3 linked regions of the Homo sapiens genome follow. The protein of the gene in region 1 interacts with the protein of each later gene in a biochemical or structural test. Each region holds a gene or a part of one and is shown on either strand. Other genes may lie near its edges.

Evidence for each region. The genes of interacting proteins can lie anywhere in the genome.
Region 2: the proteins of PELI1 (region 1) and PRKCQ form a complex in vitro, tested with the Homo sapiens proteins (one study listed by BioGRID).
Region 3: the proteins of PELI1 (region 1) and UBE2N form a complex in vitro, tested with the Homo sapiens proteins (2 studies listed by BioGRID).

What each region holds. Positions count from the first base shown.
Region 1 is NC_000002.12:64,098,853-64,106,538, forward strand, and holds part of PELI1 (E3 ubiquitin-protein ligase pellino homolog 1), read right to left. Parts: intron 5,979-7,686; coding exon 5,849-5,978; intron 5,746-5,848; exon of another isoform or gene 5,705-5,745; coding exon of another isoform or gene 5,702-5,704; intron 1,648-5,701; coding exon 1,546-1,647; intron 1-1,545. UniProt on the Homo sapiens protein: E3 ubiquitin ligase catalyzing the covalent attachment of ubiquitin moieties onto substrate proteins. Involved in the TLR and IL-1 signaling pathways via interaction with the complex containing IRAK kinases and TRAF6.
Region 2 is NC_000010.11:6,576,714-6,585,305, forward strand, and holds the start of PRKCQ (protein kinase C theta type), read right to left. Parts: upstream 3,564-8,592; 5' UTR 3,498-3,563; intron 1-3,497. UniProt on the Homo sapiens protein: Calcium-independent, phospholipid- and diacylglycerol (DAG)-dependent serine/threonine-protein kinase that mediates non-redundant functions in T-cell receptor (TCR) signaling, including T-cells activation, proliferation, differentiation and survival, by mediating activation of multiple transcription factors such as NF-kappa-B, JUN, NFATC1 and NFATC2.
Region 3 is NC_000012.12:93,410,385-93,418,070, forward strand, and holds part of UBE2N (ubiquitin-conjugating enzyme E2 N), read right to left. Parts: intron 916-7,686; coding exon 669-915; intron 491-668; coding exon 350-490; intron 1-349. UniProt on the Homo sapiens protein: The UBE2V1-UBE2N and UBE2V2-UBE2N heterodimers catalyze the synthesis of non-canonical 'Lys-63'-linked polyubiquitin chains. This type of polyubiquitination does not lead to protein degradation by the proteasome.

The sequences.
Region 1 (7,686 bases):
GGATTTTCCAAAGGTATAATACCTGTAGAAAGGGCATAATCAGTTTATGATACTGGGGAAAATTCTCTACTTTATGAAAAAGACAAAACCCAAACTGTTAAAACTTATTCAAGGGCCTTCATTAGATGGTGAAGACATTGTTTCAGAATTCAGGATGCCTGGTTTAATTTCAGTTTTGCCCCCAAGTAACTCTATCATCTTTAACTCACAAGATTTCAGTTAACCTCATCTACAAAAGATAAGCGGTAAACAAATAAATATAACGTACTTTCTGAAGCTAAAATTCTAGCCTGTGACCAAATATCTTGGAGATACACACACACACACACACACACACACACACACACACATATATATTTATCTATATTTTATTAAAGAGACGAAGTCTCACTATGTTGCCCAGGCTGGCCTCAAGCTATCCTCCCACCTCAGCCCCCTGAGTAACTGAGACTACAGGCCTAGTAGCATCTTGATTTTAAAAAAAAGCTAAGCTCATTCATTTTCACTGCTTGTCAGTGAAACAAAATGTGAAAAATCATCCTAAAGCTTTGTGTTCGGTTTTTCTTGGATCTAAACATTAATCTTCCTTAAAGATCTTATTTATTTTTGGTAAAAGTGAGGAAAACATAATAAATGCCCACATTCTAATATTAACTAGAGAAAAGAAATTCAGTATCTCATCTCATTAAAAGGGTTGGGCAGAGGGAGTGGCTTCAAAGAAATATTTCACTATTGACTGAAATTAAATATATTTCCAGGTCTTTTCACTTTTATTTGCCTTGTAAAATAAAGAAAAATGGAAGTCAATGTGACAATAATTATAAAAGCAACATTATCAGGCAATTTATGTTGTACTTAAGTTTGTTTTTAAAAAGCCTAAGCTTCAGAGAGCTCAATATTAAGGGAGAAGATCAAGGATTCTATTTACATCTTTGGAACTGACTGTCCTAAAATCTATCAGTTTATAAAATATCAGCACTGGATTGGTACAAAAAGTAAGAGAAAAATACTTTTATTGCATGAGTAGCATTGACCAAATACATGCTGAGAAAAAGGTTTGATTTCACATAGATAATACAAATAGTTAGCAAGTGCCTGGATTGTTTATTGTCTAGAGAGGAAGGTGGGAGGTAGTGGTAGAAAAAGTCATAAATGTATGCAGAGTATTTACTGTTTTCTTTTTTGGATAATAGCTACTATTCACTAAGTGTTTTTACTAAGTGCCTGGCACAGTGCTGAGTACTCTACATGTACTAGATCATTTAAGCCTCTTAACAGTCATAGGGGAGAGTCTATTATCTGCACTTTACAGAGGAGGAAACTGAGGCATATAATGGTTATGTAATATTTACCAGTAATTCTTATTCTGGAGCCCATCTCAACCATGCTAGATTGACTTCTATTTATAAGGGTTAGCAATCAATCTATATTTTAATAAAATACAATATAAAAATCTGATAATCCTCTGACCTCAGCAAAAGTCACCAACAATAGATTTTTAACTTTTTCGTTTCTTAAGAAAAAAAATTTAAGATGTTGTAATACCTGAAACATATCGGTGTTGCTGTCATGAGTATATTCAACCACCACAGTCTGGGCCCGAGATAAAGTATATGATATGCTATGCTGGTCTTTGTTGCTTATTGCCTAAGAATGAAAAAGTTAATAGCAAAAATTAGTAGGCAGGTCAATCCAATCAGATAATCTTTTCATTAAAAAAAGGGAAAACTATTTATCAAATACATGACATATTTATACATTTTCCCCCTGAAATTTAGAGAGGTTAATAACTCCTGTCAGCTGTGACAGTAGTTTCTCGGGTTGAATGGGGTACTGAAGAATATTTAGAAGCAGTTACAGAATAAAAACATAACTTTCTTTCTTTTTTTTTAAAGACAGAGTCTTGCTCTGTTGCCTAGGCTGGAGTGCAGTGGTGCAATCTCGGTTCACTGCAACCGCCGCCTCCCAGGTTCAAGTGGTTCTCCTACCTCAGCCTCCCAAGCAGCTGGGACTACAGGTGCACGCTGCCACGCCTGGCTAATTTTTTTTGTATTTTTAGTAGAGACGGCATTTCACCATGTTGCCCAGGCTGGTCTTGAACTCCTGAGCTAAGGCAATCCGCCTGCCTCAGCCTCCCAAAGTGCTAGGATTATAGGCGTGAGCCACTGCGCCCGGCCCATAATTTTCTTTTATCAAACCACTAGACTCCCTTATTAAGTATTTTAAATTATAATCAAAACCAAATCCCACATAAAAACAGAAAACAATAGTACTGCTCTGATAAGAAAATCTTGCAAAATAAGAGGAATCTTATTTTTGAAGTCATTCAGAGAGCTATAAAGTTCACTCATAAGCCAAGTTAACTGGTTTTCTAACCATTTTGTGACTCTACAGATGACAAATGTTGGCCATATGCTGGGTGAGATACAGAAAAATGCATTTGGGATTTGGTCCCAGGAGATAAAAGAAAAAAATTTAAAAAAAAAAAACAAAAGAAACATTCATAGAATGATTAAACATTACCAAAGGAAAGGGATGTAATGCTTATGACTGTACTTCTGATTTATCTCAAACTAAAAACATTGCTAAAAAGAACTTTTCAGTTTTGTTTTCAAGTGTTTTCTATGTATATGAGTTGAAGATAATATCAAAGGAGGGGAAAAATCTAGTCATCACACAAAGGAAGTAGAAATGGGCTGCATAAAACAGACACAAAGAAGAGAATAATTATATACAGCAAAGAAGCTAAATGAAAAAATCCTTCTTAATTAGAAGTTTGGCATCATAAGCTTTTACTTGGTTTCAATTTGCAACTAATCTGTAATAGATAAAGCCTTAAAACAACAGCTTTAAGACTGTCAAATTTCCAAATATACAAAGAGAATACAGAAATACCCTATTTCCAAATATAGAAGAGATTATACTAACGACTCAGCTTTATCAAAGCTTAATACTGCCACTTTTGCTTCTGATTTTTTTTTTTTTTTTTTTTGGAGACAGAGTCTCGCTCTGTCGCCTAGGTTGCAGTGCAGTGGTGCTATCTCGGCTCACTGTAACCTCCGCCTCCCAGGTTCAAGTGATTCTCCTGCTTCAGCCTCCTGAGTAGCTGGGATTACAGGTGCATGCCACCACGCCCGGCTAATTTTTTATTTTTAGTAGAGACGGGGTTTTGCCATGTTGGCCAGGCTGGTCTCGAACTCCTGACCTCGTGATCCACCCACCTCGGCCTCCCAAAGTGCTGGGATTACAGGCGTGAGCCATTGTGCCTGGCCTGCGTCTGATTTTTTTAAGGAATTAAACTACAGATACAATTGAGGCTGCCTACATGTCTCTCCCAGTTCCCTTTTCTCTACAGAGGTATCCAACCTCAAGAATGCAGTGTAGATCATTTACATGCATGTTTTACATATTTCTTTCTACACATTTAGGTATTCATATATACTATATAATTGTTTTACAAGTTTTAAACATATATATACATATATATATACACACGCACACACACATATACATATATATATGTTTAAGAGACCAGGTTTCGCTATGTGGCAGAGGCTGAAGTGCAGTGGCTATTTACAGGCAGGAAAATGGCACACTACAGCTTTAAACTCCTGTGCTCAAGTGATCTTCCTGCCTCTGCCTCCCAAGGAGCTGGGACTAACAGGCATGTGCCACTGTGCCCCGTTAAACAGCTCACTTTTCAATGAAACAATTACTCAGTATTTTGAAAATTAATTCTTAGTGGCTAAAGAGATTTTAAAACATTGGTTTTTATGTGCTTTGAAATTGTAATCTTTGTTTGTTAGTTATTAAACCTACTCTAAGACTGAGAATAAAAACTATGTCAAGTTACGTTTGAGTCTCACTGGCCTAGAACGCAGGGTTTTAACTACTCATCCCAGATGACTGCCAGACTAAATGCTTAATTTTCATCATGACCTCACAAATACATTCCTCCAAAATTTAAAGAGGAGGAGTCAATCTTTTTTTTTTTTTTTTTTTTAAACTGAGACAGGGTCTCACTCTGTCACTCAGGCTGCAGTACAGTGGCATGATCTCAGCTCACTGCAGCCTCTGCCTCCCGGGCTCAAGTGATCCTCCCACTTCAGCCTGCCAAGTAGCTGGGACTTCGGGGCATGCCACCACGCTTGGCTAATTTTTTGTATTTTTGGTGGAGATGGAGTTTCACCATGTTGCCCAGGCTGGTCTCGAACTCCCGAGCTCAAGTGATCCGCCCACCTTGGCCTCTCAAGTGCTGGGATTATAGGTGTGAGCTACCGCACCCAGCCAAGAGTCAATCTGTGATCCCTAAGATTCTTATTGCCTAGTAAAGATGAAAGATGAAAAAGAGATAACAATGAAAACATGAGGGCATGGCAGAGTAAAATAGGAAGAAAAGTACAGAATATGGTATTACAGAGGCAGGGATTAGAAATATTTTCCCTGATAGTGGTTTTCAACCAGAGGTAGTATTAGCAGTCTAAGGGGCATCTGAAAATATGCTGTGCATTTTTTGGCTGTTACGAGGATTTGCAGGCTCAAATGGCATTTTGTGGGTGAAGGACCTATAAATGTCCTGTAGTATGTGGGAAAGTACTGAACAATGAAAAAGTGGCATACCCAAAATGTCAAGAGCACTCCGGGGGGAGCTACTGTAAGAAGCTCCTCAGATTCAATCAATCTGAGGTTTACTTCCACCACCTGCTTAGTATATTCCTTCTCGCCAAAGGAGCAAAAAGAAACTGTCCCTTTTCTGCACCAACTGGCTCCCAAATAGTAACAGAGGAGTCCTAGTCAAGGCCTAAGGATTCTTTCACAAATCAAACTGGATATAAAACAAAGCTGAAAAGCCAATTACCTTCAGACACTGAAGCTGCAACCTAAAACCACATCATATGCCAATTTTTCTGTCTCTTGTTTATTTAATTTACAAAGATATGCTTCAGATGGTATAATATTAATGTACATCCTAGGGCTACTTAGCTAAAGATACAGGTACTTCCAGGAGTCAAAGAACTCTTTCTAATTTTTCTTATTTGCTCATTACAATATTAAATTCTTTGTAACACAAAGTCAGTGTTATAAAATTGGAGGCAGATGAATTCACAGAAAATATAAAGATGTGAAATTCCCCCTCCTTGTCTGTCACTCTAGGAAAAGCCCAAGTATCCTGAAATGGTGGTCCAGCTTCTGGAAATTTTGTTAGAAGAATACAAGGGGGCTAGAAGCATGAAATAGGCTAGGGGGTTGAGAAGTTATATTGTAGATGCAGTTGGATATTGCCTTCATAGCTTTGATTCAACTTAATAATTATTGAGGTCTACTTTGTGCAAGGTACTATGCTCAAATATATGAAGTTATAAACCAAAAATGAATACAACCAATACAAAGAATCTTAAGTAAAGACCCTTAGTTTAAAAATTACCTCATCCAAATGTGCTTCTAATACCTGAATACACATATTATACATCACATTCTTCATCCAGTCCAGGGAGACCCCTCTAGTAACAGAGTGGGAACTTCCCACTTCTCAGGGCAGACAGCTGCATAATTCTAAGTACTAGATAAAGCCCTGTCCCCCATCCCACCTCTTTTAATAAGGAAACAGAGTGTTTCCTTCTAATTTCCACCCACTGATCCTGGTTTGTCATTTTTTTTTTAAAAGTCCAATTCCCCTTCCATATGGCAGCTCTTCAAATACCATGTCTCCAAAGTCTCTTCTCCAATCCAAACAAAAGGCAATTTCTGAAATAGAAATGTAAGGGGAATGCTAGAGAATACAAACAACACATAAAAGTCTTTCAAATTCTCCAAGTTAATTTATGTAGCTTTTTTTTTTTTTTTTTACCTTTGCAGCCTGAGGAGTACAAGCAATATGCACAGTGCTGGGCTTCACCCCATTTGCCTTAGGTCTTTTAAACAAAGCAAACCTACTTTTCCTCCTTCCTCTATCGCCATTTGGGAGAGACCCATTATACCTGATGGGGGAAAAAAAGTATAGGTGATCTCTTGCAAGAACTGCACAATTATAAAACAAATGTTTGACTTTGCCTTGCAGAATCAATTCCCAATTAATTATCTATTAACACATTATAATTATTTAAAATTCCTTTGAGCAACTGTTGATCTCCATACCAGGTGCCAGTGTGTGAAACAAAATGAGATTCTTTTTCTGGCTTCATTCCAAGTCACAGAGAACCTTTTGGATTATACACAGATTCGTGTTATCTCTATTTTTTTCCTTCCCTCTTTTATGGAAGATAATTAAGAGCTGATTAATGGCATGTCTGACTCCTTATGACTCATTCTGTTTTTTTAAGGTGAACTGTTTGCATGTGCTAATACAACCTTTAAAAAGTACAGTATGTATTGTTTAAAACACAATCTCCTTTAATTGTGAACCAAACACTTTAAATAGCTGAACTTTTGAAGTAAGGAATTTTTAGATTTGTTAAGTCTTAGCTACCTGAATGTACAAATGCACTCTCATTATGTTAGCAGAACCTGTCCAACAGACATGTTTGCTAAGTAGTAAACATACTTTTGTTGTTCAGATCTTATGACCATTTCTCCATAACATGTACACATACACACACACACACATATACATCCTAAAGGTAAGCAAGTACTAAACCAATGGAAACAAGTTAAAAACAAAATAAAAATATTTGGGTGTTTACTATGTACCAGGCACTATTGAATGCTATCCCATACACATCACCTCACTAAATCTACCCTTGCAAAAATTCTACTAGATTGAAATCACTGTCCCCATTTTTGTACATTAGGAAACAGACTCAGAAGAATTATATTCTGAAGTGACACTGGCAAAGCCAGAATTTGAATTTAAGTATGTTTGTCATGTGGTTATGTCATTCTTTACTGCTTCATTGAGGCATGAGCAGTAGCTTAATAATAATCTTTCCTCATTCACCGTCCACCTCCCCTGCCCCCGCCCCCTGACAAATCTTGGGTTTGATGATCTACCATATGTAGTTGGTCAATCTAGGGGGAAAGGAAGCAGGGAACAGGGACAGTTTTGAGGCTGGAGGAGGAAGTGATTATAAAATGGCCTGTAATTGTGGCTGGCAAGGAAGAATGTTTTAAAGCTGAGAAGAGAGTTTACTCAATGACTGCCATATATAGAAACTACATTGACCCTTTATAAAAAATAAAATACTTTGTATTGGAGAAAGCCCTTGGTAATGTTGCTAGCCTTGCTGTAAGTCCAAAGTACAGCCCCTTAGCTAATAATTATTTTAGCTATTTTAGGCTTTGTATTGCCCCCAGACCCTCTGTCGATTCCTCACTGCCCCTTCACTACTGTCCTCTGAGTTGCATGACTCATCCCACTTCTGGATCTTGCTCTTTAGTCCCACATTGCGTTCCTGTAGTTCAAAGCTCTTTTCTAAGCAGCAACAGCATGAAACCTTGTCCAGCTTCACTTCTAGAGGGTTGAGAAGAAAAATTATCTGCATTTTAAGACACCAAGTACCAGACACAGAGACAATTACTGTTGCTAATGATTAACTGAGGAACCCATAGGCTAAGACTGGCGGTTTAAAACCCTAAGCTAAATATTAAACTATTCTTCAAATGACTCTCAAATTTCCTGCTAGAAGAATTTAATCTGGAAAAGTTTTTGGTAGTTAAGAGCTGTTTGTCATTGATACCATTAAAATCTAT
Region 2 (8,592 bases), on another chromosome or scaffold:
TATTTTAACCACAATAAAAAAGTTAACTGGTAGGTCACCTGGGACTGCGGTTTAAAGCAAATGCTTGATGGTTAGACTAATCTGGATGGTCCAACTAACCTGACTCTACCACTGACTGGTTATAAGACCTGGACAAGGGGCTCTACCCCTTGAGCCTCAGTTTCCTCATCTGAAAAACTGGAATAATAATAATATCTAATTTATAAAGGCTTTTGGAGGTTAAATGAAGCAGTAATGCCTCTTACATATAAATAAAATTCTGAGTATGATATACAGCACATAAATTCTAAATAATAAAGACTCAAAACCATATTTCATTGGTTTTGTTGATGCTGATTATTATTATTATAATTAATACTATTAGCTTAATTCAAAAGCTAACATCAACCTACAGCAACCTGCAGAAAGATGTCCTGCCAAATACTTGCTAATTTAATCCAGGAGCAAAAATCTATGATTCTGGGCTTGAGTGAGCTTTCCTAATTTTAAAACTCTGATGCTCATTTTGTCCCCAAGAATGTGTTTAGATGACAGAGCAATCAGAATTTGACATGTATAAATGCTTGGCATGTTAAAATAATGAAAGATATTTTCACCATTGTAAGGAAACAGCTTTTAATCCATCTCTCTGGTTCAACATCACATTTTTCTATAGTTTCTCATGACTTCTTCCTTAACAATTGGAATAGGTATGAAAAAGCTGAGCTGAACACATAGCTGCTTAGAAATGAGCTGCTTAAAGTGTTAAAACAACAGAAACAGCAAGCATGAGTTTAATGCTATGTATGCCGTCACAATACTAATTTCTCTATTTTAAATTACAGATTACACACACACATACACACACACACGGAATCACGTCTATATTGCTGGGATTTTCATTATATAACAATATATCATTTTAAATGATTTGAGGCAAATTATTGAAAAAAATTAAAGACTGAACTCCATAAAAAGGAAATCACCTGAAATCAAATATAACCTTGTTAACAAACCAGCACATTAGCAACATTTTTAGGGGCAACAACATAATCAGCAACTCTAAGACATCAATCAAATGCATTAAAAACAGGAAGTACTAACTCTAATTCCTAATTTCCAGAAAGGCAAATATACCATAATTAAATAACACGTTATAAGGAGATTTGTCTGTGTAGGTCTACTTCTGAATCCCCGAAGTTACATACTTGTACCACAAGCCCATACTCTTGAAAGAAAATTCTGGACCCAGTCCACATGGAATTTTGGTTAAAACATCTAATTCATTGCAGAGAAGAATTTAGTCTTTTCCACGGAAGAGACAGCATGTGTTAGAATGAGAATACTTTATAGAAATGACCAGTGACAAGCCGGCTATGTAAGGGGGCTTCTGATGCCTGGCGTTAACAAGAGACAGAGAGTATTATTGTTGAAAGGGATCTTTGAGATTACAGAAGGAGCTGAGGTGTGAATAATCGAACACCATCCCCTTGTTGCCTGAAGGAGAAGTGAGACAGCAAAACAAATCAAATTTCCAGGAGCTGCACCGTGTATGGTGAGCGAAGACGCAATGAGGACATGTCTGTAGGAGAACAGAGGTAGAAGTTAGCTCCTCAAGTAACAGTTGCCATCCCGAGGCACCACAGCACAAGACAGTAGCGGAAATGAACATGACAACGCGGATGGTGGGTGACAAGAGTCTTGCCTGGATATTGACATTTTTAAAGTGTAGAAGAAAATCGCAGGTCACTGAAACAAAGGCTGATGGTGCCCAGCAGGTTACTCTTGAAATCAGAAACAGAAGTTCATGAGAGGCAAGAAGACAGAAACAACAACTGAAAAACTTAGAGTGGATCGCTAACTTGCAGGAGCTGTGCAGCTTTGGCTTTGCAGGTTTTAGAAGCTCTCCCTACGCCACGTCTTTAAATATATGTATGTTCAATCAGCAGGAGGAAGGGACTAACAAGAGCCTTCTGCGGTAAGCACCTGCATCAAACAATGGCACTGATCTCAGAGGGATTTTAAACAGCTGTGCATAAACTTCAAAAGTAATTTGCAACCATATTAGTAAATGTCACTCTTCTTCCCGCTAGACACAGCACTTTTAAAAGAGATTAAGCATCCGCAGTAAGCCTGCCATTTTACAAGGGTTACCAAAGATAAGTTAGGGAAAATATGAAGATGATGATTCACAAGGTCGGGGTGTGGGGTGGGGTGGGGGACCCAGGACCTTAGGAATAGGGCTTGTCTATCACACAGCCTCGGGCAAGAAGGGCCCAGTGGGGACCATGGCTTCTAGGGAGCAAACCAAGGGAAAAGAGCAACGGAGTGGACCCTCCAGGCTTCTTGCCTCTCTCACGGAGCCTCACGAATCCCAGTGGTTTAGAATTTTCTTTGGCAAAAGAAAAGGTCAAAGAGGCCGGAGTTGACAGAAAGCATGGGCGGACTTCTCAGATCTTGTAGGTGGTTCTTAAAAGAATTCAGCAGGCTTGAGGTGTGCTCTCAAAGGGCAACTGGAACGTCAAGGACTTGGACACCAGGCACAGATGGTTCATTTCCCATGGACAGGAAGAGGGCACGGAGTGCTCCCTCTTCCCTCCACCTTCTCCAGCCTAGTCCCCCTCAGCCTGTGCCACTCCTGAATCATCTTTTATAGCACCACGTCCAGCCCGCACAGGGGCAGGACAGCCCAGGGAACAAGGCAGTCCTGTGGCGCTCTCCTTGCAGAAATGACCGGAGTCTCCCAATCCAGCCAGCCCGTGGACCTCTCTTCATGCCCACGGGGGAGTGCACACGCCTGTAGCATTCAACAGTCACTCTCCCATTGATAACGGTGGCTCTCGAAAATCCAATACCACAAAGATACTTTATTGCACAAACTTTGCTTGGTTAACCTGGCCCTCAAAGCTGGGGAATAACCTCACTTGAGGCTACAGGAATGAGCACGCAGATTTTTCTTTTTTTTTTTTTTTTGGTATCTTTCAAAGACCTGCCTCCCCCTCCCCCAGGCCCTTGACCAGAAACTTGGCTTGTTTAGAAGCCTGAGCAATGGCACCCCCGTCCGTGCTCCAATACATTCCCAGAAAAGGGGTTATGCTCCCCTGTGGACAGGATACCATCTCCAGAAAACATGTTTCCTCACGCATTTTTTTTTTTTTTTTTTACCAAGAATACAAAAACTTTCCACCTTCTTCCCTCCCCGCAGGCCCCCTTTCGTTCAGGTGAGAAGGAAAAGGGAGAAGAAAGGAGGAAGCGCCCCCAGGCCGGCGGCCCCCACCCGGCTAAGGTCGCCAGCATCCCGCATCCCGTGCGACCTGCGTCCCAGAAACCCAGCGGGGAAATTCTTCCCGGTGCGCTCTTGCGCCCGCTTGGTTCCATTTCCTACTCCGCCTGCTCACCCGGCAGCCCTCACCCCTTCCCGGAGGCTCTCCGAGGGGCCCGGGTAGCCCTTCTCGCCACGGGTCTCGGCCCCTCCAGCCCGCTCCCTCCCGGCGGCGGCGCGGGGCGCGGGGCCCTACCTGGAGCGAGCACGGCGCCGCTGCTGCCCGGTGGCGCTGGGACTGCGCGGGGACTGCGCGGGGACTGCGCGGGGACTGGCGGGGCTGGCGGGGCTGGCGGGGCTGGCGGGGCTGGCGGGCCCGGCGCACTGCGGGTGCGCCTAGAAGGCGGTGCCCGCCAGGGGGCGCTCGCCAGCCTCCCCGCCAGCCCGGCCTCCCGGGACCCGGCACCTCTAGCCAGGGACGCGCGCTCGGTCCCCCGCCGTGCGCCCCCGGTCCCGCGCCCAGGCTCCCGCCCCTGGCCTCCTTACCAGCCACTTGTCGCCCAGCTGCGAACTGGAGCGGGAGGCGGCGGCCGGAGGGCCCAGGACAGCCCCGGGAGGGCGGCGAGGCGGAGCAGGAGCGCCCCGGCTCCGGCCACATTCTCAGAGTCAGGAAAAGGGGCGAGAGGCCACATGTCTCCCTCTCGCCCAACTGAAAACGAAACGGCGCTCCAGCAGATTGGGTGGAAAGAGCTGGGTCTCTTTTCTCTGTTTTTCACGCTAGAAAGGGCTTGTAAACATTGTTCCTTTTAAAATGACCTACCCCAGGCATTTGTTTGGGCACACTTCTGTCCTGGGGTCATCGTTCCTAGGTGGCTTCGGACCTGGGACTTTTCCTGTATCTGCACATTGTCGTTTTATACACAATTGCCAAGGTGGGACTGCTTTCAACTTTACTGTGCTTGAAGCTGCAAAGGTAATGTTGCCGCCGTGCGTGTCATTTTAGGACTTTTTATGCCTTGCGGGTAATACTAATGATGGTCACAGGGAGGATAAACGGGGTGGTTTCTTTTTCTATACTCCATGTAACTAATTTCTCATTCAGGTTAGAAAATTATATGTCTGGTTACTAATATTCTTACTGAATGGTTTCCTTGCAATGATGACACCAAATAATTAAAACGTACTTGATTAAGACTTTTGTTGCTGTAGTGTACTAAGATCAGATTAATCTGAGAAGTAAAATAGTAATTTTTTGTCCTTTTTTCTTTTCTTGTTTTGAGAGAGACATTAAAAACGATTAAAACAAAACAAAACAGGCCAGGTGCGGTGGCTCATGCCTGTAATGCCAGCACTTTGGGAGGCTGAGGCGGGTGGATCGCTTGAGGCTGGGAGTTTGAGACCAGCCTGGCCAACATGGCAAAATCGTGTCTCTCCTAAAAATACAAAAATTAGCTGGGTGTTGTGGCACGTGCCAGTAATCCCAGCTACTCAGAAGGCTGAGGCAGGAGAATCGTTTGAACCTGGGAGGAGGAGGTTGCAGTGAGCTGAGATCTCACCACTGCACTGCAGTCTGGGTGACAGCAAAACTCTGCCTCAAAAAAAAAAAAGGTTTAACAAAAGCCAAAAGTTGAATTAGCAGCCTTCTGATCATGGGAATGTAGGATGTCAACTAAAAAGAACCTCAGAGGTTGGGAAGGCAGATGAAAAACTGAGGCCCCGAAGTGTTTCAAGACTTGATTAAATCACTCAGGTCTGCACTAGGAAGCGAGTTATGATGATGCCCCTAATCTATATGAACCCAAATAAAGCCAAAACACACACACCTTTTAAGGATAAAACTATATTCCATTAAAATTAGCCCCGCATTTGTCAATATCTAACAGCATTGGACTGACCCTCAGGCCAGAGGCTGTAGCTCTTGGAAGATCCTAGCCAGGAGGTTTGAGAGTGGCCAGTACCTCGGAAGTGCTGGCTCACTCTGACATCATCAGAACCTGGCATACAGTAGGCGCTCATTGGGTATTTGCTATGGAAATTAGGCAGGAAAGTGCGTCTGTGTCTGGAAACAAAGAGGCAAAGCTTAAGCAGTGATCCCCATGCAGATTCTTTCTGCAAACTACAAAACAGAAGCTTCCCTAGTTCAGACTGCCATCCATCTGGCTCTTTCTCCAATTGTTTTTCAGCGGATCCTGTTACAGTGCAAAGAAGAAATGGCAAACGGATAACAGCTACTGTGCCTAGAAGATGGTAGATTCCTCACGCTCCATATCTGGGTTTCTCATTGACAATTAGGCACTGAAAGGAAGCTCATATGTCCTGTTAATTTAATCAGTAGTTAGTGGCTTTAGAAAAAGTTTCATATATACACCAGGTATGATAAGGACTTTTTTTTTTCTTTTTGAGACAGAGTCTTGCTGTGTTGCCCAGGATGGAGTGCAGCGGCGTGATCATAGCTCACTGCAGTTTTGATCCCCCAGGACTCAAGTTATCCTCTCACCTCAGCCTCCCAAATAGCTGGGACTACAGGCACACATCACCATGACCAAGCTAATATTTAAAAAGATTTTTTTGTAGAGACGGGGTCTCACTATGTTGCCCAGGCTGGTTTAAAACTCCTGGGCTCAAGTGATGCTCCTACCTCAGCTTCCCAAAATGCTGGGATTATCGGGGTGAGCCACCATGCCCAGCCTGTGATGACTTTAGACGCACTACTCATATAATATTCATAATCTGATGTGATATGTATCATCATCATTATCATCTCTCTTTAACAGAAGAGACTAACAAGGCTTAGAAAGGTTATGTACCTCGCTCAAGATCCCACAATTACTAAAGTACCAGAACCAAGATTCAAACCCAGGTCAGGCTGGAGCCACCATCTCAAGAGCTGCTGAATAATTAATTCTCCTTTTTTTTTTTTTTTTTTGAGATGGAGTCTTGTTCTGTCACCCAGGCTGGAGTGCAGTGGCACAATCTTGGCTCACTGCAACCTCTGCCTTCTGGATTCAAGTGATTCTTCCTGCCTCAGCCTCCTGAGTAGCTGGGATTACAGGCATGTGCCTGCCACCATGCTCAGTTAATTTTTGTATTGTTAGTAGAGACGGGTTTCACCATGTTGGCCAGGGTGGTCTCGAACTCCTGACATCAGGTGATCCGCCCACCTCAGCCTCCGAAAGTGCTGGGATTACAGGCATAAGCCACTGCGCCCAGCCAATTCTCCATTCTTACATCGTACACTCAGTTTTCTCTTTCTTTCTCTTTTGGACAACTGATCTTTGAGGACTCTTGGCTACTCAATTGTCCTATAATCGTATAGTCCTACAACAGGAAACCCGTTAACCTGAAGATCAGATCTTTTAAAACAACATCCATCATATATCTACAAAATTGGGATTTTTTTATCGTAAAATTTCATCTAAAACAAAAAATTCACATCTGTTCTTGGTATCCATTAGGTGTAGTGGACACCTCTAGATATTCTTGATGCCAGCATCCTGTAGACCCGCCATCTCCTTTCCCAGGCCATGGGGTGTTTCTGTTTTCTATTAGACACTGTCTCTTAGTTATATAAACGTGGCTGCTCTCAGAAGTTCTCCACACCTTTGTTTCCTGGAAGAGGAAATGGCATTTCCTGGAGGGGATGACACGTGGGCGGTGAGGTTCCACTCACTACGTTAAACACACCCTAACTTTCAGCTGTGTACTTCTTTTCCTCTTTCAGGTTCTGCCCTGATGTTTCCTGGAATAATGCTGAGGACTGCCTTTCGGGTAGCCGCCCTATTCAGTTCACTTCATCTCGGAAATACCTGACCCCTGCCTTGGATCCAGCGGCCCTCCTGAGAGCTGAGGAAGGAGGAAATCCTATGTGTCTGCTCCCGGAGCTGCCACAACCCATCTTCCCACAACTCGGAACTTGGAAAAAGGAACCCAGGACACGACTTTGCTTTTCTTTTGGACCTAGTTGGTGATTATACTCTGTCTCCCATGGAGACCACGTCTTGCATCCTTCCTTCTATATGGGATTTAGGATAGAAATTAAAAAGAAAACATATTATTTTGAGTCTTGATTTGGAGAAAGGTAGTATTCAGGAGGAAGTAGGCTATGATACACATAGAAAATTTGAGGACAGTGTTACTTAACAAGGACATTTCTGTCTCTGCAGAAGTCACAGCTTGGAGGAAACCAGTTTGCACTATTTGATGAGGAATTTGGCCACCAAACCACTGATACTTTCCCAAAGGTTTGGCAGAAATTGTTTTTTGAGTGGCTCACCAGAGTACCCAGAAGAATCAGTATGGAATTAGAGGACAGTGGCCTACCCTAAATAAAGACATGAGTGATGTATAAAGTCTAGTGTCAATTTATTCAGAAAATATCAAAATTATTCTGGGAGCTATGGGTCAAAGTTGATAGGCACAAACAAACAAAAACGAAAGGTATTTTAAATTCACAGCTTGGATAAGTAAAAGGGAGATGTTGTCATTTCTCTTCTTCAATCCAACTTTAGATTTTCAAGCCGGAAAAAGGGTAATTAGAAGTTAGAAATTGTTATTGCCAGAAAATAGCTCTAAACCCTGAAAAAAAAAAAAAAAAAAAAAAAAACTGACCCTCCTCTTGGGGAGTGATAAACCTCAATTACTGTTGATAGTAAAACTGATATCAACTCTTCGAAACCAGTGAAAGGTGAATGGAAACCTTACCCTAGGTTAAGGTTTAAAAAATGTTCATAATATATATTTGAAAGTTCCATTATTTAAAATATTCATTAGACATGCTTTGTAATGTTAAGTTACTTCAAAAAATCTTACACAAGGGAAGGGAAGTATGTATTATTCCTTCATTTAAGAGAAAGATAATGTGTGAATATTAGTTAATATTTATCGTACATTTACTACCTGTGTCGAAGCGTAGTGTTACACACTTAATTTCAATTATTTAATTTGATTCTAACAATGAATCCCCTGAGATGGATAATATCCTCTTCATTTTACAGATGAGACAATTGAGACTTAAAGGTTAAACAAATGATTTCCTAAGCTCATTCAGCTAATAAACGGTAGGGGACTGCTTGACACCAGTCCAGTTGACCCTCAAATCCATGATTTCTGCCACCATATTCACAGAAACAAGACAAGAGCTGAAAATATAGCCTGACTCTTGAAACAGTCAAAGAATTGTGTATGTTTATGAAAGTTCTGATTAATAAGATATTCTGAGGACAAAAGACAAGGCATGGGTAGAGGGGCAATGTGTAGATTAGAATGTATCACAATGCCCACTAAATAGTAAAACCATAGAAAATGAAATTTAATCCTTACTGTGTAGAATATTTAGAGTAGATTGTTTTTTC
Region 3 (7,686 bases), on another chromosome or scaffold:
AATTCCGTAGCCATAAACAGCTGAATACTTTAATCAAATGGGTTACAAAAACAGTTCAAGTTTTCCAGTATTCTTTACATATAACTAGATAAATGGTATGCACTCAGTATTTGTTAAACCAGGTGTAGTTACAAGAGACTCCAAGATCTTTCAATTACAGGTTGTCTTTATATTTGGGGGGTCCCATAGCAAGCCATTTTGTTAAGACGTATTTACATACTATAAGCAGGATCTCACTTATTATACTTTTTTCTATTTCTTTTCCTTGCCAAGAGCTTTAGAAAAGTTTAAGTGGTAATACAAATTTGTAAAAGTGGAAGTGGTGTGAAGGAGAATGAATATTAGATACCTGTTTCTATGGCTTGGGCTTCGTTGGTCTTCCACTGCTCCGCTACATCATTTGCTAATGGATCATCTGGATTGGGAGCACTTAACAAGGCCTGGATCGATAGCAGAACTGTGCGGATCTGCAGTGCTGGGGACCACTTATCTATGAAGGCAACAGGCCCAGTATGATAAAGCATGAAAAAAACAGGCCCAGAACTGCTTCACTTCCCTCCCACAGACCTCTCTGATCTTTGTATAATGTTTACATTCTAAACATGGAATGCTTAAGAGAAAAAGGAGAAAGCTTAATAATAGCATATGCTGATAAAGATAACACTTACCTTTCAAAATATCTAAACATATTCTTCCCAACTTGTCTACATTAGGATGATAAATTTTGGTCATGAAACGTACTTTAGGGGCTGCCATTGGGTATTCTTCTGGAAGGAATAGTTCAAGTTTAAAAGTCCCTCCCTCAAAGGGGGAATCCTGAGGGCCAGCAATGACCACATGAAAATAACGGGCGTTGCTCTCATCTGGTTCGGCTTTGATGCCAGGAACTGGTTCTGCCAGCAAACGCTGGGTTTCCTATGACAGAAAAACAAACACATTTGTGAAACAAATGTCATTTTGCTAGACACCAAAAGTAAAATTAGAAAGTTCATCTCTTAGAACTACGCATAATAGAACAGCTCCAATCTCCCAACAGATTTAGCTTATAAAATGCAAAATTCAAAAAAATACCATTTAAATAATTACAACCAGCTGAATGAAACTGCAAGCGAATACTAATGATGTTATCATACATTTTGGCTACAAATGTCTACAAATATGTTAATAAAATTAGCTTAATAAAACTGATTTTTTACTCAAGTAAAATAAAGTAACATTAGGATTACATAAGTAAGGCAACTTGCTCTAAACTCAACCAAAACCAAGCTATTTAAAAAGTAAAATTAGCTTTTTTGGTGGTTTTTTTTGGCTTGTTTGTTTGTTTTTGAGACAAGATCTCACTTTGTCACTCACGCTGGAGTGCAGTGGCAAGATCTTGGCTCACTGCAGCCTCGACCTCCCTGGGCCCAGGTGATCCTCCCAACTCGGCCTCCTGAGTAGCTGGGATTACAGGTGTGCGCCACCACACCTAGCTAATTTTTGTATTTTTAGTAGAGACGGTATCACCCTGTTGGCCAGGCTGGTCTTGAACTCCTGGCCTCAAGTGATTTGCTCGCCTTGGCTTCCCAAAGTGCTGAGATTACAGGTATGGGCCAACACACTCGGCCAAAAATTAGTTTTTAAACCCACTGAAAACCTCCCCTCTGAAAAATGTAACGGACTAAAGAAAGGAGATAAGAAGAGGCCCAGGTACCTGAACAGGACTAAAGAAATATATTTAACAATGCTGATTACTCTAAAATTGACAATTAACTTCAGAGGAACCCTTAATACTCCCAACAATCATACCATTAGTTCTCTTTTTCATCATTCTCCCTCTCCCCTAAATAATTGTATTATTATTATTTCTCTTCTCTCTTCAAACCTCCAGCATCTCCATCCCCATCCTCACTTGTGGCTGATGTCCTGCTTCCTATTTCATGACAAGTTAGATACTTCCATCAGTTCCCACTGTAGCATTTGGACATTTCCCTGCATCTGCACCCATACACTCTGGTTTTTCTCCTGTATAGATGAAATGTCACGTACTCTTGGCTAGGGCCAATCGGTCTTGAGCACTAGATCTTACTGATCTCTGAAATGTTTGTTCTTCGGTACCATAAAGAAATAGCACTTGAACATAAATTTAATTTATTTAGTAAAGCCATTTTTACTTCCTGCAGAAAGGGTACACTCGCCAGGAGTTTTGCCACAAGAGTATACTGAACAAAGGAGACAGGGTCATTTATAACCTGACGCGTCCACCCTACTGCTGTGTCCGGTTTCCACTGGCTGGAACGGGATCTCACATTCTGTATTTGTCCTGACTGGCTAGCAACTTAGAACTTTTTAAAAGAGGTAAAGGTAGAGGGGAACAAAGGAAGGAGGAAGTAACTTGTGGAATGCTGAGAAAGGTAAAAACACTTTTAAATAAGGAAGAGGAACAGGCTATGACCTAATGCTTGCTTGGACCAGTATAAGCATGCCAGGGCAAATATTTAGGCTAAATTGTGGGAGCTAAGAACATAAAGTATATTGATTTCTTTATTATGGCTAGCAAATATTTAAGAATGTTTGCACAGGTCTTCGAATAAATTTTGCTTCTAAGAGAAGTTACTATTTATTCCTAATTAGATGGGGAGGAAAGTCTTTGAAGAGGAACCTCTACTTTGCTTGTCTCCAATTTCTCTCCTCCTCTTCTGTCTTGAACATACCCTCCAATCAAGCTGTAGTTATCGCTAACTTGTTTGTTAAGGTCACCAATGATTTCCACAAGGTTAAATCAAATGTCCAGTGCTTAATCTTTATCTTACCTAAATGCGACATCTTATCCAGCTGGTCTCCTTCCTCTTTGCAAAGCTTTATCTAACTTCCTATAAACATTCTCATGGCTCTCTTCCTCCTTGTCTGGCAGCAGCTTCCTTTAGTTTCCTTGTTGGTTTCTTCTATCTCCCAACATCGCAACACTGAAATGCACTGGGGCTCTATTCTAGGGCTTCCTCTCTGTTTATACATTTCCACAGTGATCTCATGTAATGCAATGAATTTAAATACTAAACACACTCTATAAGCTGAAGCCTCCCCTAATTCATATCTAGCCCAGACCTCTCCCCTCATCGTGCCTCTTGCCTCTATAACTACCTGCTTGATATACACTCTTGAATGTCTAATAAGCATCCCAAACTTAACATGACCTCCCTATCCCCAACCTTTGCTCCTCCCATAAAGTCTTCCCCACATCAGTTACTGGCAAACCCATCTTTCCAAATGATCCACCTTTTCCTTCATATGCCACACACATCTAGCCTGATTGGCAAATTGGTTTTTTTTATACTTCAAATTCTACTCATGATTGGACTGTTTCTCACCATTCCACTGCTACACCTCTGATCCAAGCAACCATCAGCTCTGACCTGGCATACTACAACAGCCTCCTAACCTGTTCTTCCTGCTTCTGACCTCACTACCTCCCTCGCAGGTCTATTATCCACAGACCCTTTAAAAGTCATAGTCCTGAGCCGGGTGCGGTGGCTCACGCCTGTAATCCCAGCACTTTGGGAGGCCGAGGCGGGTGGATCACCTCAGGTCAGGAGTTCGAGACCAGCCTGATCAACATGGAGAAATCCCATCTCTACTAAAAATACAAAATCAGCCGGGCATGGTGGCACGTGCCTGTAATCCCAGCTACTCGGGAGGCTGAGGCAGGAGAATCATTTGAAGCCAGGAGGCGGAGGTTGCAGTGAGCTGAGATCGTGCCATTGCACTCCAGCCTGGGTGACAGGGCGAGACTCCATCTCAAAAAAAGTCTGGGCATGGTGGCTCACACCTGTAATCCCAGCATTTTGGGAGGCCGAGGCGGGTGGATCGGCTCAGGTCAGGAGTTCGAGACCAGCCTGATCAACATGGAGAAATCCCACCTCTACTAAAAATATAAAATTAGCTAGGCATGGTGGCGCATGCCTGTAATCCCAGCTACTTGGGAGGCTGAGGCAGGAGAATCGCTTGAACCCCGGAGGTGGAGGTTGCGGTGAGCCCCGATCATGCCATTGCTCTCCAGCCTAGGCAAAAGAGCGAAGCTCCGTCTCAAAAAAAAAAAAAAAAAAAAAAAGTCATAGTCCTTGTAATGGGCCCCCAAAAGACGCTCTATATGATGCCCTCACTCCACCTACCTCTCTGACTTATCTTCAGCTGTTCTCTCTCCATCCCCTAACCTTCTCTGTTCCAGACAAAAATTAGCTTCCTTGTAGTTCTTCAACGTGCCAGGCATCCGCTCACCTCAAGGGCTTTGTACTTCCTCTTCCTCCCCAAGATATCCATATGGCTTGCTCCCTCAGCTCCTAAGATCTTCATGTTTTCTCAGTGAAGCCATCATAACTGAAATTGCAAACCCCATTCAACCCTACCCTGCACACTCCCTATCCCCACTCCCTGGCTTTATCTCCACAGCACTACTAACAAATCTCATTTCTACTTATTTTGTTCAGAATTTAAGCTCCATGAGAGGATGGATTTGAGTCTATTTTATGGACTGCTATATCCTCAGCATTTGGAACACTGCCTGGCACAATAGATATTCAATTAATATTTACTGAATTCTGAATCTATTTGATGTTATGAAAAGAGGGAAATAAACGATCAGAATTTCATCGTTAACATCATTAAGGCAGGGTTATTTTCAAGGCAGGATGTGCACATTATGGAAGGAAAACAAAAGGAGCCACTCAGGTATGGGGAAAAATAGTCTAACTTCTACTTATATTTATTTTTAACCAGAAAAATGTTCATATTTAAATAAGCTTTTAGGTATGAAAAACAATAAATGAGAACATTTTATTTACACTGCCTTCACCTAAAAAAAAATACATCATAAACTGTTTCATTCCACAAGCTACAGGGCATACGTTAAAAACAACAACAACAAATAACTTCTCTCTCAGCACAGTAATATACTGAAATAGTCATAAGATGTAAATACAAATCAAATGCTTCCCCAAAATGTGTTAATTAAACCCATGGCCATTTTAGGTAATGTCTCTGGTATTTTAAGACTAGTTTTTTGTTTTGATCATGGCGATGTAAGAGCAAGTGAGAAACTGACATGTTCTTTAGGTTCAAACTAAAACATTTTTAGAGTATTAAAAAGCTCAAGAGGCAATAATGAAGCCTCTGACCTTGGGAAGTCCTTTAACATGTGACCAGAACAAAAGAGGCTGGTCTTCATTTTTTAGGAAAAAAGTTAAGATATTAGGGATGAATAGCAGGAGTAGAAAAATGAGAAAATAACTGGATGGTAAAATTCCTTGAATTCTGGGCTCTCCTCACCTCCATCCTTTAATTTTACCCCAGGTCTTCATGTTTTTAGAAAGCCATAAATTGGGTGACTGGAAAAAAAAGAAAGCCAGGGCCCAAGAGTCCCAATCCACCACTCACCAGTTACACAAAGTAGTAGCAGCTCTGTATCTACTATAAAAAGCTACAGAAAGGCCTCCAAAAGCGTATCCCAAAATAGCTTCAAAATCACTCTCAATACACAGTGGCAGAGATAGGTATGGCATTTACTTTCTCATCTTCAGTTCACCCTCAAAATCAGATATTCTTTGTAAAGAATGTACATATTAAGCACATCATGTGACCTGATCAAGCCTAGATTTAATTGGAACACATTCTAAAATAAGCTTTCGTGTGTAGAAAACATTTTGAAATAGTCCTTATAATATATGCTGCTCTCAAGTTCTAATGGACTGACACAAAAACATGCATAATTATTTCACTAAACTGTTGGTTTCCCTAACAAACCCACAGCATAAACTGTGGGAGGGGAAAAAAGGAATAAAATCCAAACTAAATGAAACAAGTCTGAAATGGCAGCATCTGAAAAAGTCTCAACCACAGAAACTGATGTCAACTTTTTTCCTAAAAAGGCAAAAACTGGCTAGGAAATAAAATCTTTCCGGCCACTATTCAACACATGACTAACTAAAATACCTTCTGGTTTTACACTATTCTTTGGTGGAAAGACAGAGTACAGTATGATTTCTTTAAGTGAAGAAGTAAAGGGCTAAAATTCCTACTGTTTCACTTATCTATCTTTTTTTTTTTTTTTGAGACAAGTCTCGCTCTCTTGCCCAGGCTGCAGTGCAGTGGCACGATCTTGGCTCACTGCAACCTCTGCCTCCTGGGTCCAAGTGAGCACCTGGCTAATTTTTGTATTTTTAGCAGAGACAGGGTTTCACCATGTTAGCCAGGCAGGTCTCGAACTCCTGACTTAAAGTGATCTGCCCGCCTCAGCCTCCCAAAGTGCTGGGATTGTAAGCGTGAGGCACCACGCCCGGCCTTATCTATCTTTTGGCACAAATAATTTACATTGCAGGTGGGATGCCATGGTTCACACCTGTAATCCCTGCACTTTGGGAGGCTGAGGCAGGCAGGGGAATCACTTGAGGCTAGGAGTTCCAGACCAAGCTGGGCAAGCATAGTGAGACCCCATCACTACCAAAAAAAAAAAAAAAAAAAAGTTGACAAATGAGATCACATAGGAAGGCCATAGTTGTTTACAGAAAAACAGAATAACCCTTAAATGAATTTTGTGATTCTATTATGTTTAAAAGCAGTCCAAGGATTGAATCCCAAACAGAAGTGAGTTTAGGGCCATGCATAATAGAAAGCACTGTAGACTATGTTCAGGAAATTAGTTAATGTAGACTATGTTCAGGAAGTTAGTTACTAAAATAGACAGGTAAGTTGGTAAAGGAATAGGGTATGGATTTAAATGTCCACAAAATTAAGTCTAAAGGAAGGTATCTCATCTTATAGAACGCATACAATAGTTAATGCTACAAATATTTTTAAAAGGAATCAAATATCACATCAAATTGATCTAATTATCAACAGATCTACTGGGTCTTGAAGAGCAAACCCTAGACTCACACTACTGTAAACTATACTGTAGTTAGTCAATTATAACAACTGACATTCTGTCAACCTATCTCTATTAACCAGGACTCTTATTTTTAAGTTGAAAAATAATTTGTGCTCAGTACGAAGCAATGACAGGTCTTAGATGCTCTTCTGCAAGGCAATGATTGGAGTATGTACAGTAAAATTTTGGGGTAATAAACAGTATTCTTAGAAAAAGTGCTAATTTGTGTGTGAGAAAAGTTGGTCCAGTTAGTAACTATCTATATCCCAGTGCATCCTGTCTACAGTGATTAGGTTTTTTAGAATATTCTCTGAAACACAAAATTGCAATATATGACCAGTAATATCAACTGTAGATCTTTTAGCTCATCTCAAACAAGAGCTGTCTGATAACTCAGTAACTGCCAATTTCATTACTGAAAAATAAGTGTTAAAAAACTGAGTGATGCTTCAATGATACCTACTCTGTAAACTCCAACCTGTCACTACATCTTTAAGCGATTCTAAAATATTAACAAACAGGGTTCTGGACAAAGTTGTGTGTTATAGAAAAAAAATTTAAATAAAGAAAAAAATTATGAAAAATTTGTAAGATAAAACAAACGGGCTCCTTTTTTGGGATCACTAATAAAGCAAGTCAATTCTTCATTATGTACACAACTGTAAGTTACTTATGAGAATCTGCAAGTTCACCCTCTATATATATAAGTGGGCATTTTTATTTATCACTTTTTTTGTAGAGATGGGTTTCTCTATGTTGCCCAGGCTGGTCTCCTGCCTCAAGCAATC